Linked DNA regions of Homo sapiens. The protein of the gene in region 2 interacts with the protein of the main gene of each other region in a pairwise test. Each region holds a gene or a part of one and is shown on either strand. Other genes may lie near its edges.

Region 1 (7,281 bases), on a different chromosome or scaffold from region 2:
TTGTTTCAAGGTCAAGTATATTTCCACCTAGTTTTTAAAAACTCATTTATTCTTTGTTTTTTCTGCCTTCAACTCTTCATCTGGAATTTCTTTATATGTGGCATGAGATGAGTTTCTAATTTTTTTTCTCCAGTTATTTAGCTATTCCAAAGCCTTTTACTGACTAATCGTTACCTTTCCCATCTATCTCTGATGCCACCTTTACTTTTTTTCGTATTTTTTTCGGTACTGTACTCCAGGCCATCATTCTAGTCCACTGACTTGACAGTAATTTTTCACTTGTCCCACCTGGCTCAAATTACTGTAACTTTACAATATATGACATTAGTTTAAATGACAAATATTTGGCTAAAGTATACACAGCCCATAAAACAGGCTACGTCCATAGCACTAGCACCTTTCCTATCATTCACTGCTATGAACAACAATCTGCAAGGCTCAGAGCCATGCAGGAGGGTCAGTCCCCTGGCAATAGAAAGAGGGTTGGGGCTAAAAGGAGGTGTGTAAGTTTCAAAGGACACTAATCTGGCCTATAACCTGAAAAAGTTAAATGAATCTACAGCAAGTTAAATCCTGGTATAAAACATACCAAGGGATTGTCAACATTTCTGGTTTGTATTAGAATCTGGCTACATTAATATGACTTGAAATGAGCTGGACAAGATTAGAACTTCAAATCTTTTTGTCACATAGAGATTTTTCAGATGCAATGAGATTTGATCTATATTAAAAGGCATCATCTCTACACTGCAACACAGAGCACAAGTTTAGCATAAAAGTGGAATTCAAATACAAGGGAAGTCTTTTGTTCCCCCCTTACCTGGACTTTTAGTTCTAGTTCTCTGATTTGGTCTTCTTTCACCTTCATGTCCATCGTGAGCTTCTTGCCCTCTGCTTCTAGTTCTCTGATCCGATTCCGTAAGGTTTCGGTGCATTCTCCCCTTTTGAAAAAGAAGAGAAGGAAATAAAGTGATTTAAAAGACTATAGGTTGGGGCTGGGCCCTGTGACTCAGGCCTGTAATCCCAGCACTTTGGGAGGCCGAGGCAGGCAGATTATTTGAGGTCAGGGGTTCGAGACCAACCTGACCAGCATGGTGAAACCCCGTCTCTACTAAAAATACAAAAAAAATTGGCTGGGCATGGTGGTACATGCCTGTAGTCCCAGCTACTGGGGAGGCTGAGGCAGAAGAATTGCTTGAACCCAGGAGGTGGAGGTTGCAGCGAGTCCAGATCGTGCCACTGCACTCCAGCTTGGGCGTCCGAGTGAGACTCCATCTCAAAAACAAATAAATAAATAAATAAATAAAATTTTAAAAAAGACTATAGGTTGGCCGAGTGCAGTGGCTCACGCCTGTAATCACAGCAATTTGGGAGGCCAAGGCAGGTGGATCACTTGAGGTCAGGAGTTCAAGACCAGCCTGGCCAACACAGTGAAACCCTCTCTCTACAAAAATTAGCTGGGTGTAGTGGCACACATCTGTAATCCCAGCTACTCGGGAGGCCGAGGCAGGAGAATTGCTTGTACCTGGGAGGCAGAGGCTGCACTGAGCTGAGATGGTGTCACAGCACGTTAGCCTGGGTGACAAAGTGAGACTCTGTCTCAAAAAAAAGAAAAAAAAAAGACTATAGGTTTACTTGTATTGTGGGATTTATATTTCTTTTAATTTCTTTTATACTCCAGGGTCTGTCAGGTTTTAGCTTTTGGCTCAGTCTGCTCAGTTCTCTGTGTCCTTTGATAATTTCAATAATACTCTAAAATAACTGGGCTGGGCATGGTGGCTCATGCCCGTAATCCCAGCACTCCCAAGGCCAAGGTGGGAGGACTGCTTGAGCCCAGAGTCTGAGATCAGCCTGGGCAACACAGAGAGACCCTGTCTCTACAAAAAATTTAAAAAATAGCTGGGCATAGTAGCACATGCCTGTAGTCCCAGCTACTCAGGAGGCTGAGGCAAGAGGACAACTTGAGCCCAGGAGTTTCAGGTTATAGTAAGCTATGACTGCACCATTGCACTCCAGTCTGGGTGACAGAATGATATCCTGTCTCAAAATACATACATATATACAATAATTATTACTGAGTGTCTAGATGAGCCAGACACTAAGGTACTTTACCCATACTACCTTCTTCAATCCTTATAACAACCTAGGGTATATTTATCCCATTTTCCAGATAAGAAAACTGAGGCTACATAGATAAAATACTAGTTCAAGGTTACCTAGCTTTTAGGTCTTAGAATAGGGATAAGAACTGAGATTTTCTGGCTTCCCAATCCAGCAAACTTCCCACCAGGCCATGAGACTTGAGACAATACACACAAAGCCAGATAGAACTGAACATGTACTATGTCCAGCAGGGGGCGGTGAACTAGAAAAAAATTTTCCCCCCACTTTTGAGGGGCTACGCATTGGGACTTTTGTCTTTCTTGTCATAAAGTTGCCACAAGACTGGAGTAAACAGAAAAATAAGGGCACACTGTTGAGCTGCTTCTCAGGGCTATCATAAGGTTGAGCTAAAAGAGATGATGGCAATGGCCAGTCCAAAGCTGGTACTGTCTAGGTTCCAGAAACAGCCCAATGAAGAAAGTAGGTGTTCTCTGCCTACCAAAACGGAAGGTCCAGTCAGAGATTTATGCCCTGAGATTTACTGAATAAATTATGGCAGGCCTGGTGTGGTGGCTCACGCCTGTAATCCCAGCACTTTGGGAGGTCAAGGTGGGCAGATCACCTGAGGTCAGGAGTTCGAGACCAGCCTGCCAAGATGGTGAAACCTCGTCTCTACTAAAAATACAAAAAGTTGCTGGGCACGGTGGCAGGAGCCTGTAATCCCAGCTACTTGGGAGGCTGAGGCAGGAGAATCGCTTGAACCTGGGTGGCAAAGGCTGCAGTGAGCTGAGATCGCGCCACTGCACTCCAGCCTGGGTGACAGAGTTAGACTCCGTCTCAAAAAGAAGGAAAAAAAGAATAAGTTATGAAAAACAAGGACTATCCAGGGATAAGATAAATAAGCTTAACTGGAAGCAAAAGGGATTTGGGGTAGACACTGAAATCAACTTACTGATTCTCAGGCATGGGAGACACTAAGCAATATCGTTAAGGAACTGCTATGTCCTCCTGAGTGGAATTTTTCAGAAAGGGCAGGTGCTGTATGAATTGAGGAGAGAGGAGAGCAGTCATCACTAGATGACTGTTCAAGAACATCTCCTGCAAGTTTAAGTGCTTCAGAATGCAAATACATCTTCAAACAAACAAACAATCCCACATTGTAGGCAGGCTAGTCAAGGGCCTTGTAAGTCTGTATAGATGCTGATGGGCCAAGCCAGCTCAGCCATCTGCTGGGGGGAGGCAGGATCACACAGGAGAGAGTTCTCACTTGCTGTTATTTCCTAAAAGGTGAAATGATTCACCAATTATTCTGCAAATGCCAGAACCCACAAAGAAGGCTATCAACATGCCAAAAGTTAAATTACTTAACTTTAATTACGACAAAGCAAAATTCAAGGAAAAATTACAGTTGAATTATACCACGTAGATACAAATTAGGATGGAATTTAAAAGTGAAATAAATAATAATTTACCCTCGCTCTATATCTGCAAACACCTAACTGATTCCCACATGCAGAGGGACTTCACTAGTCAAGAAAACAAAGGAAAAAGTGATAAGTGAAGTAGAAGCAAAAAGAAAAAAAAAGCTCTTAACTATCTAATAGTTTTTGGAATACTTGCACACAGGGGTACTTTCCAGTGGTATAGGAGGTAGTCCCCAATTTTCATTATGCCATAAATGTAATTCCATCTAGTAGAGACTTATGTTTCACTTTTTTTTTCCATTTCATTTGACAGTTTGCTGATATCCATTTGAGCAGCCAGTACACAGTGCTTGGGCAACCAAGATTTTATCTTTCTTCCATTTTAAGATAAAAACTTCAGAAACACATATACCTAAGAGTGGAGAGTAATGATAGCTCTCTAAAGGGAACGAACTTCCAGATAGAATCTCTCAATGCATTTAGTAATCATCAGTCTGACAAAAAGTGACTGGAAACCTTTTTATGAGCAGTACTTTGCCTCCCAGGTATGGGAAACATGGTGATTCCCTCATCCCACTTTATAGATGAGGTCACTGAGGGATAAAGCTGTTATAAGATAGTGCAAGCTTGCACACATGGAGTTTAAACCAGTTAATAAAACAGTACTTAAAAGCAATCCATCCGTGCATGATTGCTGTACGTCCAATCCTGCCCAAGGCACCAAATTCCCATGTCTTTGTTGGTAAAGGAAAGCCAACCTTGGATTAAACACTCAGGTGACATGGACATACCTAGATGCAGCAGCAAACGCAACAGCCCGGGCAGCAGTGGCTTCTTCTAACTTCTTCCTCTTTTTCTCTTCCATTAACTGTTTCTCTACAAAACTTCGGGCTTCCTGCTCAGCTTTTAGCTTTTTCTCCAACTGGCTGATATTCTGCTTGTCTTTTTGCTTCATTTGCACAGCATTATGTAACCTATATGGAAATGATTGTCATATAAAGTCTTAAAATTACAAATGCCCACTATAAACCCTTGAGAAACATCTCTTTATCACCTTAAGGCCAATTAAACAGGAGGTTTGAACAGCAAATCAAAAATGTCAATGCCCAGAATGCCTGAGGAAAACACACTGTTATTCTTTAATAATTCCTAAACACCAATAAACAAGCTGCCTTACAAAACAGAGATTAAGACCTAGCCTCTGCTCTGTTCAAGTAAGTGATCTACAAAAGGTCATCCAGAAAACAGGGTAAAACAAATTTTGAACAGAGGGGAAGATAATTGTAGAACTAATTCTAATGTTCCAGAGCACCCTGAAAGAACTTCAGTCCCACCAAAGAACCACTGATGGGACCAGCCCCAGTGAAACTAAGGTAAGGGGTGGAAAGGGGAAGGTTTTTATTTTTCCTGAATACAATTTTGCTGTAGCCTACTACAGCTTTTCCTTTCCAGCTCAGGATGTTTGCTCACAGTGTCCCCAAATCCTCTTTTAGAGTCACAGGATGCTTAATTTCAGATAGAAATTTCAGCCATATTTCCTGCTTACTACCACCCCCAGCTTTACCTATCAGCATGAGGTGAGTTTATCACTGGGATGTTCTCTACATATCAATGCTAGAACCACCACAAATGCTGGTCAGAGGCAATGGAGAGGTTATTTGCCTGTAATGCCCTAGCTTTTGAGTTACATTCCTTAAAAATGTTGAACTCCTCTTTCAACAGGGAAAGCCCAGAAAGCCAACAGCCTGTAATGATCATCACTACCACGGGCACACATTGCTGGGAGATTTAAAAAAAGAAAAAAGGACAGACCTACACTGAGTTAAGAAGTAATTCCAGAATGAACTAATCAAAAGCCTAAATGAATTCACACAGAAGACCTGGCTTTCTGCCTGCCTTTTCAAATAAAATCAAAGTTCAATGTCATCTTTTAGTTCTGGAAATAAAAGTAAATATAGTCAAATCCTCTAGAAATTTTCACTCAAAGGAGCAAAATTTTCAAAATGTGACAGAACTACTTCTTGTCAATTTTACTATCCAAAAACTCAATAACTATTTTAAACTAAGAAGTTATTAAATGAGAGAAGACAAAAACAGTAATATTAATAAACTGTTTTGTGGCAATGAAATAAGTTTTTATAGATTTTATAAACATGTTGAATATCTGGTACTAAATAAAGTATTTTAAACATTTTATTTAAAAACCTCTCAGCAGGTCTCTGTCACCATAAATCTTGTGCTCCAACCCCTGGCAACAGGAGAAGCAGTGAAGCTGCCGGGCTTACGGCCAAAGGCCTGAAAGGTGCACGTACTTGTTCTGCAGCAGCTCGTTCTCCTGCCGAAGCTGGCCCATTTCTGAGCGGATCCCTCGCTCGGTGCTCGAAAGGGAGCTGATCTGACTGCGGAGCTCTTGTTCCACTTGTCTGCTGGCTTGCAGGTCAGCCTTTAACTTTTTAATGTCTTGTTCCAGCCTAGGAGAATGAGAAATGCAGCATTTTCATCTAGGTGAGGGCACCCACAGAGCTGGGAGGGACCTGGTGGGGGTCCTGGACTGCTGGGTGAATGGCAGAAAAAGGACCCCGCTGGCAGTTCCTGCCATGATGAGGACTCCTGTCTGCAACTGGGTTAATTTTGTTGAATGATTCCACCTGGGTCCCTACCTCTTCCTACTGGGGTGTAACTTTCAACTTCCCCCTGTTTATGAATAGTGACAGGTGAGTATGGTGCTTGTGAATATCCATCCGAGCTGCTGATAAAGGAGAAAGGGACAGCAGAGAGGGTGGCTGAAGACTAAAGGCTCCCTTCTGGTGGCTTTTCATGCCCTCAGCAAGGGAAATATGTTCAAACAACTAGCACATGACCTACCACTTAATGCTTTGTGATATTTTGATAAATCAGAATCTACTGTCTGAGACTGCGTCCCACCATGGGCCTAGAAGAAAACGGTCTGCGACGACCTCCAGAAATTGCAGCATCCTTGCTGAATGACGTTCACAACTCTGGTGATTGCGGCAGAAGAGCTCACGAGACTCAATAACAATGAAAAAAGGAACAAATTACATGCTCTAAGAATCATAAGAGAACTCCATCTGTAAAATGAAGCCTATCTTTTCTCGTCAATTCCTTACTCTTGTTCCATCTATTTTCTTTACTGCAGTAATAGTTTCACTTTAAGTGACAGGTATTGGAGACCTACTATGCATATGTAGTGCTGAAAATGGTCAACAAAAACTATCGGCCAGGCGCAGTGGCTCATGCCTGTAATCCCAGCACTTTGGGAGCCCGAGGCAGGCGGATCACCTGAGGTCAGGAGTTCAAGACCGGCCTGGCCAACGTGGTGAAACCCCATCTCTACTAAAAGTACAAAAATTAGCTGGGCATGGTGGCGCGTGCCTGTAATCCCAGCTACTCAGGAGGCTGAGGCAGGAGAATCACTTGAACCCAGGAGGTGGAGGTTGCAGTGAGCTGAGATCATGCCACTGCACTCCAGCCTGGGTGACAAGAGTGAGACTCTGTCTCAAAAAACAAAAAACAAACAAACGAAAACTATAAAATCAAGTCTCTTTCTTCATGGGAAAACTTCACAATTAGGAACAAAGAAATAGGAACCAAGAAATACATAATTTAAATGATTAAACAATAAGACAAGGAAGGCCATGATTAAATATATGCCAGAAGGAATAATAACAACAGCTACTATTTAATGAGAACTTATGGGCCAGGCACTGTTCTATAGGGTTTAATCCTATAATCT
Region 2 (7,281 bases):
ATCTTTTAAAACAATGCTATGGGAAGTCTTCCTTGATTCTGCAGATCTTTCCCCAGATAAACAGGTAACTCCTTCCTTGAGGTTGCCTTAGGACCTCACTGATTTTTCTACTGCACCTTTACCACCTGAACTGTACACTATTCCTCCACATGTCTGTCCCCTCTGCTCCAAGACTGCAGAGGACAGTCTTGCACATCATCTTTGTAAAAACAGTCTTTATTTTACTCAGAAATTTCTTATTGAGTCCTGCTACATACATGCTAGGTGTTAGGGTTTAAAAAGAATGAAAATAAAGCCTGTCAGGGATGGCTTTTCTAGAACACCTGCCCAAGCAGAGACTTAAATATTGAGGCTAGCTAGATTAAAAGTGGTAGAGGGCAAGAAAGGGTGACAGCATGCCACACAGCAGCAAGAGCAGGAGCGAGGCCTGAAAGAGTGAAAGTATTTGCCTGCAATAGAAGGAGGAGTGAGTAGGGCATTAAGAGCCACTCAGTAATGCCAGAGAAAGGGCACACAGGGAAAAGGGCTAAAGATGTAGAATAGGGCAGAAGTCAGATTATGAAAGCCTTATGTGTACCTTTAAGATGCTTAGACATTAACGTTCAAGAGTGGTCCCTGGTCCTATCTGTATTAAGATGTAGATCATTTTAATGCCAAAACCAATATTCCTAGTGAGCCATTATTCATTAAGACAAGGTGACAGCTAGCTCATGTGGACACAGCTGAGATGATACTATGTAGCAAATTCCCAATAATTCTCATGAACACTTGGAAAGTCAATTCTATAATAAGTCATAGAAATTATAATAAATCACTTAATATTTGTTTGGGAAGGTGCTTTATAAAGTTATAGTGTATATGAATATAACTAATAGTTGTGAATTCAGAGCTGTGAGAATAAAGCAAAAAAATCACACTGTGTTTGAGTCAGCAATCTTTAGATTTCTATCTAGTCTTCCTACCCAGTCCATAAATTCTAAGTATAATCCTAGTACTCGCTCTCAAGTTTAAGTTAAATGCTAGCCTATACAAAAAATACTCTTTCTCTTACTTCTTTTTTGTTATTTATATGTTGCTTTGTTTAAAGGAAGAACACAAAAATGCCCTGCTAAAGGGATTCTGTTTGGCTGCAGGCTGCAAGAGGGGAAAAACACAAAGCACATTTTGCAGAAAATGATTTTTTAGAAGTCAGAACTATGACATGAAGTCAAGCAGGGCACTCTAGGACTGACTTTGCTGTGCTTCCTTAATATGCTCCTTGCTCTCTTTCTTTTCTGGAAGCTGTGACTCACACAGGTCATGGAGAAAATTTCGTACTCCTTCCTCATGCCCAGCTTAAATACTAGTGTACAACGTGGAAACCTGTAAATTATCTGACATTTCTCTCTGTCCTCCAAACCTTTCTCATTCAATTATCACTAAATCATATTGACTATACCTCTCTTCTGCCTCTGCTTTATATTACCACTTCCACTGAGAACATAAACATTTACAAAATGGCTTTTATTACAAAAAAGCCTTCCAACTATTAATGTTATTTCTCACATGAAAAAAATTAAGCAAAACAAATGAAAAAAGCATAACACCAAAAAAAGGCCAACACATTAAAATGAGTAATGGGGATTCCAAACTTTATTTCACCATGGGCAGGTGAAAACCTTAGAATACATTGATACTAGTCCAAGGATGTGTGACATGGAAACTATAGATGACTACTGCAAAAGCTTCCTTTGTCTCCTGGTTTCTTTACATGGTTATCTTCCATCAATCCCAGCAAACTATAGGCCACAGGACAAATCCAATCTGCCTTTTGGCTTTGTAAATAAAGTTTTATAGGAGCTCAGTCATGCCTGTTTGCTTACATATAATCATGGTGGCTTTCACACTACAACAACAGACAACAGCCTGGTTAAGTAGATATGACAGAGACCACATAGTCTAAAATATTTCCCACCTGGTCCTTTACAGAAAAAGCTTGCTAACCCATTTTACACCATAAGCAGAATATGCCTTAATATTCAAATTTAATCTTGTAACTCCCCTGCTCAAATTTCTCCAATGAGCCCCTGCAGCACACATTGTTGGCTCCTATCAATAGCCATTCCTTATTCTTTCTTGCAGAAGAAACACAAGTCTATTGGGATATTTATTATCCCAATCCCCCTCCTCAGCCTCAGAAAGAGAAATGTTTATTCTAAGCTAATCATGTATTTGCCATCCCATTGCCTGGTTTGGGAATGAGCATGTGGTGTGACCCAGCCAATGAAATGTTACAGGAAGCCCCTTGCATGCTTCTAAGTTTTCTCCCTGTTTAAAAGACACATGTGAAGAAAAGCAGCCCTTGAAATGTTGTGTTGTGAGAACAAGATGTTTGGAGCTGCTGCGGATTAGCCAACCATGAAAGGAAACATGAAGAAAACACTGCCAACAGCACAGCTGAAAGAGGGACAAATGGGATCCTAGGATATCACTGAACAACCAAAACAACTCTGGTTCCTACTGTTTTAGCCACTGCTCATCTAGTATTTACAGTCCAAAGCATTCTACCTGGTAAATTTCCCATGGCCCACAGGGTAAGACCTACTCATTTCTATAGTATTAAAAAAGTCTATCATAAACTTGCCTTAGCTAAGTATTCACCTCATTCCCAAACTCTGGTGTCTCACACTTTTGGTACTAGCAAAAGTGAACTGCTCAGAAACCCTGCAAAGTTCACTCGGCATCCTGTCTTTTGCAGTTGTTGCTCTTCCTGCCAAACAGGCAATCTCATCAGATGTTCTTCTGGCAAACACACAAACTTGTTGCATGTTCCTTCTGCCAAAAATTATTCTTCTGCTTCTTTACCTAGAAAAATTCTTCTCACTCTGCATGCTTACTTTGAATCATACCTACTTTTTTTCAAAACTTTCATTCCTCATCACGTATGTCTGGCACATAATTAATACATAATAAATCATAATTATAAGCTTCCAGTTGGCATCTAGCACACAGTAAGCACTGAATAAAGTAGTAAAATAATAAAAGTGACAATGATAATAACAAGCTCCTGTCTGTATTTTTAATTGTGTGTGTTCTGTAGCATTAGAAAAATGATTAGTATCTAAAAGACATTTGATAGTTATTTGTTAAGTGGACAAGTGAAAACATAGAAATGTTTTCTTTGTAAATTCTGTTGAAAAAGCACAGAAATGAAATAGAGACACCTCTATTATGAGCACCTTAAAGATCAAAACTACATCTATTCCATCTTTGTCTTCTGCAACTTATAAAACCTAACTTACAGAAGCTTTTTGATAAATAGATGGCTAAATTAAAGGTGTCCTCATCCAGTTTGGATTATACAATGTATTAGGTGTCCACAACCAGGTGGCATACTAGTATTTTTGTTAATGTGAAGCATTTTTCTACTTTTATTATAATCTGCTGAGCCTAGAGTTGGGCAATTTGTATATTTATTATGACAATCTTTTGGTAAATGGTAGCAGAGCATCTTGTTCTAACAAAATTACTGTTATCAAGACAATTGACCAGCAGGTAGAGAACACATCTTGTTCCAACAAAGTAAATGTATCTCTTTCCAACTTCAAATGAGGAGGAATGAAGTCAGTAAGAGTGAGACCTTGTTGGGACAAGGATATGTAACATGACTTGTGCTTTGGCGTTCTTTTGTGATCAAAAATTCCTTACTTTTATTTTTTTATCTACGGTAGGACCACCCAGAGCAGGGGTCCACAACTCCCAGGTCACAGACTGGTACCAGTCCATGGACTATTATGAACCACACCACACAGGAGGAGGTGAGCAGCAGGCAAACCAGGGAAGCTTCACCTGTACTTACAGCCACACCCCATGGCTCATATTACCGCCTGAACTCTGCCTCCAGTCAGATCAGTGATAGCACTAGATACTCATTGGAGCATGAACCCTATTGTGAACTGCTCATCTGAGGGATCTAGGTTGTGTGCTTCATATGAGAAACTAATGCCTGATGATCTGTCACTGTCTCACTTTGCCCCCAGATGAGACCATCTAGTTGCAGAAAAATAAGCTCAGAGTTTCCACGGATTCTACATTATGGTAAGTTGTATAATTATTTCATTATATATTACAATGTAATAATAATATAAAGTAGCACAATAAATGAAACATGGCTGAATAATCCTGAAACCATCCCCACCTTCCCCCAGCCCATGGAAAGACTGTCTTCCACAAAACCGGTCCCTGATGCCAAAAACATTGTGGACAACTGACCTAAAGTAATTCATTATCACAAGTCTTACCTGGATTGCTGTTTTCAGAAGAGATTTTTAGCATCTGTTTTTCTTTATAGTCAGAAAGTAATTCACAAATTCTATGTATAAAAATGTAATAAACCAAATTACTATTTTAATACTGATATAAAAAATACTTACCAAATGTAAGATTCTTAGAGTATTTCAAACAATATCATAATATCAGAATTTAACAGTATTATCCCATACACTTATGAGTACATTCTACAAACTTTTCTTTAAGCTTCTAATTAAAGAAGAAAAAAAATTAGGTGAAATGCTCATAAATCAAGGGCACTGTGACCCAGTAAATCAGCAGGCATTAGCATGACATAATAGAAAGTGTCCCAACTCTGCATAAGTCCTAGCTCCATAATGAACAGCTATTTGTTCTTGGACAACTTTCTTCTCTTAGGCTCAATGTCTTCTTCTACAAAGTGAGGACTTTGCTGCCTTATTTCACTAGGTTGTTATAAAGATTTAACAAGGTAACATTTTTTAAATGCTCAGAGAAATAGTAAAGCAATGGAATAATCTGTTCCTAAACTTTATGACTAAAATTATCTTGGAATCCCAAATAAAACCCCATGTGTATTTTGTTCATAGGTTCTAATATGCAAATGCTGTAGTTTTCAGGAAATGTTATTAAGTCCTAATTTTGCTTCTTAGTTGTCCTACTCCTTATGGCTTATCATTCAGGGCATCTCAACTGTGTCATAGTTTGTAACTAAATTTTTTCATAAATCTCTCATTAAAGTAGATAATGTGATTGTCCACTATTACGGAGTTGACCAATTTGTTGTGCTAAGGGCAGAAAAACCAATGGATGTTAAGACCTGGCTTGGAGCAATGATCCTTCTCTACAGACTCAAACTCTGAGCCAGCAGATGTTTGTTAGGATAATGCTTTATATTGATGTTCAATTCCAGCTGACATGGGAGACCAAAACTCTACTTTTATTTTTTTTCAGTTTTCATGAAGAAGCTGCAAATTGACATTCTCTAATTTTTGACGTACATACTTATAATATATTTTGCACTGAACACATTATTCAGCTCTAAATCATCTCACAGACCATCTTCCATGACTATTTTTGCAGCACAAATCACATTTCGATATTTTGGTGGCACCCATTTTGCTTTGATTCACACTGTTTCCTTAGAGCTAGCCAGCAAATAGTGAAATGATCTTCCAGTGACTGCACAAAATATGGAATGCTTCAAAGAGTTGTGCTGCCTCCTTATGCAGAAGCCGTGCTAACTTTCTCTGTATTGTTCCAATTTTAGGATATGTGCCGCCAAAGCAGGCACAAAGCCCTACTTTTACACATGATTTGTGATGAGTCATGGGCAAGGCTTGGCTCTTGTCCATGACTCATCACTACTTACTTAACCCACGTGAGATTCTGAGAATTCTCTTCAATGGCTTCCTGTGAGGTACAATTTGAAAATATTTTAAAATCTTGAGCTAGAGATGGAAGTAGCTTGGACGATTTTCATTATCATGTAAATCAGATCACTCAAGGGGCCAACCACAGCTGGGAGCCACTGCTTGGGGAAGGCTCATATGGGACTTTCTACTGCCTAAGGTTCTACACAGGATATAAAGGTGCCTCACTGTGTAGATCTGGTAGCAAAGAAGAAGAAACAAACACTGATCTCTTTCTGCCACATTATTTGAACCCCTCTGACCCTTTATAACAAGCCCACCTCATATCTGCTAGAGAAAAGACCAACAACGGCCTGAAAGGATCTCTTACCATGAAGGTCTCAGCTAATTCTTAGCTAAGATGTGGGTTCCACATTAGGTTCTGAATACAGGAGGAAGGGTCAATTTGCTCACTTTGTGTGCGGATAAAGTCAGGATGCCCAGCGGCCAGAGCAGGGTGCTGGTGCTTTGGGAACAATGGCTGAGCATATAAGCATAGGTAAGGGAACTAAAAAATGTTGTAACTTCAAAGTCACTGTGTGAATCCCCATGAAGACTTGAGGGATCTGAATCAGTAAGGGCACCTTGGTGTCAAAGGTCAACAATTACCAGGCAGCAGAAGCAGTTTGAGTGGCAACAATGCAGCAACAGAAACAATGGAAACAACAGAATGATTGGAATGTCCTTTTTTCTCTCCTCCTTCTGACTTGATAAAAGGGACTGTCTTCCTTGGATTTAGTGAACCCCTTTGGTTCTTGAAAAATTCAAGGAGTATGTAGGAGACAGTCCCCAGAAGACAGTACAAGGCTTTCTGCTAAACTGGACATTTCAAGACCCAAATAACTAATCAGAAAAATCAAAGATGTGATACTCTTTTTTATGCCATGCATAGGTGTTATACTTGGATGAAATGAACAATATTGGGATCTCTAAGGATAAAGGTCTTAAAAGTCCTGAGGTAAAGAATCCTGCACCCATTGGTACTTCTAACTTGTCTTGCTTTTTGTCTGATTTCTGGCTGATGCAGGGGACTAACTCACTGCCACTCTAAAACTACCTGAACCAAACTATGACATCTCACCTGATATGTAAGATGCAATTGTTATAATTATTTTAAACCTCAATTTAGCATTAACTAGCCTTTTCATGTAAACACTTACACATGATGATGACTAGAAACAGCATACTCTCTGGCCGTCTGTCCAGATAGATCTTGAGAAGATACATCAACATTTTGCTCAAGTAGAAGATTGACTATACTTGCTGATCCACAACATACAGCAAGTATGAGGGCAGTTCTAAAATTACAGAGATAATTTCTCCTTTAGAAACTGTAATAAAGTTATTTTAAAAGCTAATTTGATATACTTTACCAATTTGACATCTTGCCTGTCCATGCAGAATCAAACATTTACATGCGCTAAAAGACATAAGCATCTTGGGTGCTCAAGAGTTCATCTTTGTAAAATACCACCAAGGTTAAAAGGAAGGGACAAAAAGGAAACCTCTTATCTCAGTGGGGTATTGCATAGCAGAAGCTACTAATTTAAAGTCCTTTGATGGGCAAGAAACAATGCTAGGG

What was found.
Region 1: the proteins of POTEB3 (region 2) and MACO1 interact in binary tests that used the Homo sapiens proteins (3 or more experiments, as listed by UniProt).

Annotation. Positions count from the first base shown.
Region 1 is NC_000001.11:25,482,833-25,490,113, reverse strand, and holds part of MACO1 (macoilin), read right to left. Parts: intron 5,999-7,281; coding exon 5,840-5,998; intron 4,502-5,839; coding exon 4,319-4,501; intron 942-4,318; coding exon 821-941; intron 1-820. UniProt on the Homo sapiens protein: Plays a role in the regulation of neuronal activity.
Region 2 is NC_000015.10:21,423,405-21,430,685, forward strand, and holds part of POTEB3 (POTE ankyrin domain family member B3), read right to left. Parts: intron 6,998-7,281; coding exon 6,860-6,997; intron 5,582-6,859; exon of another isoform or gene 5,475-5,581; intron 4,352-5,474; coding exon 4,281-4,351; intron 2,845-4,280; exon of another isoform or gene 2,624-2,844; intron 1,886-2,623; coding exon of another isoform or gene 1,881-1,885; exon of another isoform or gene 1,615-1,880; intron 1-1,614.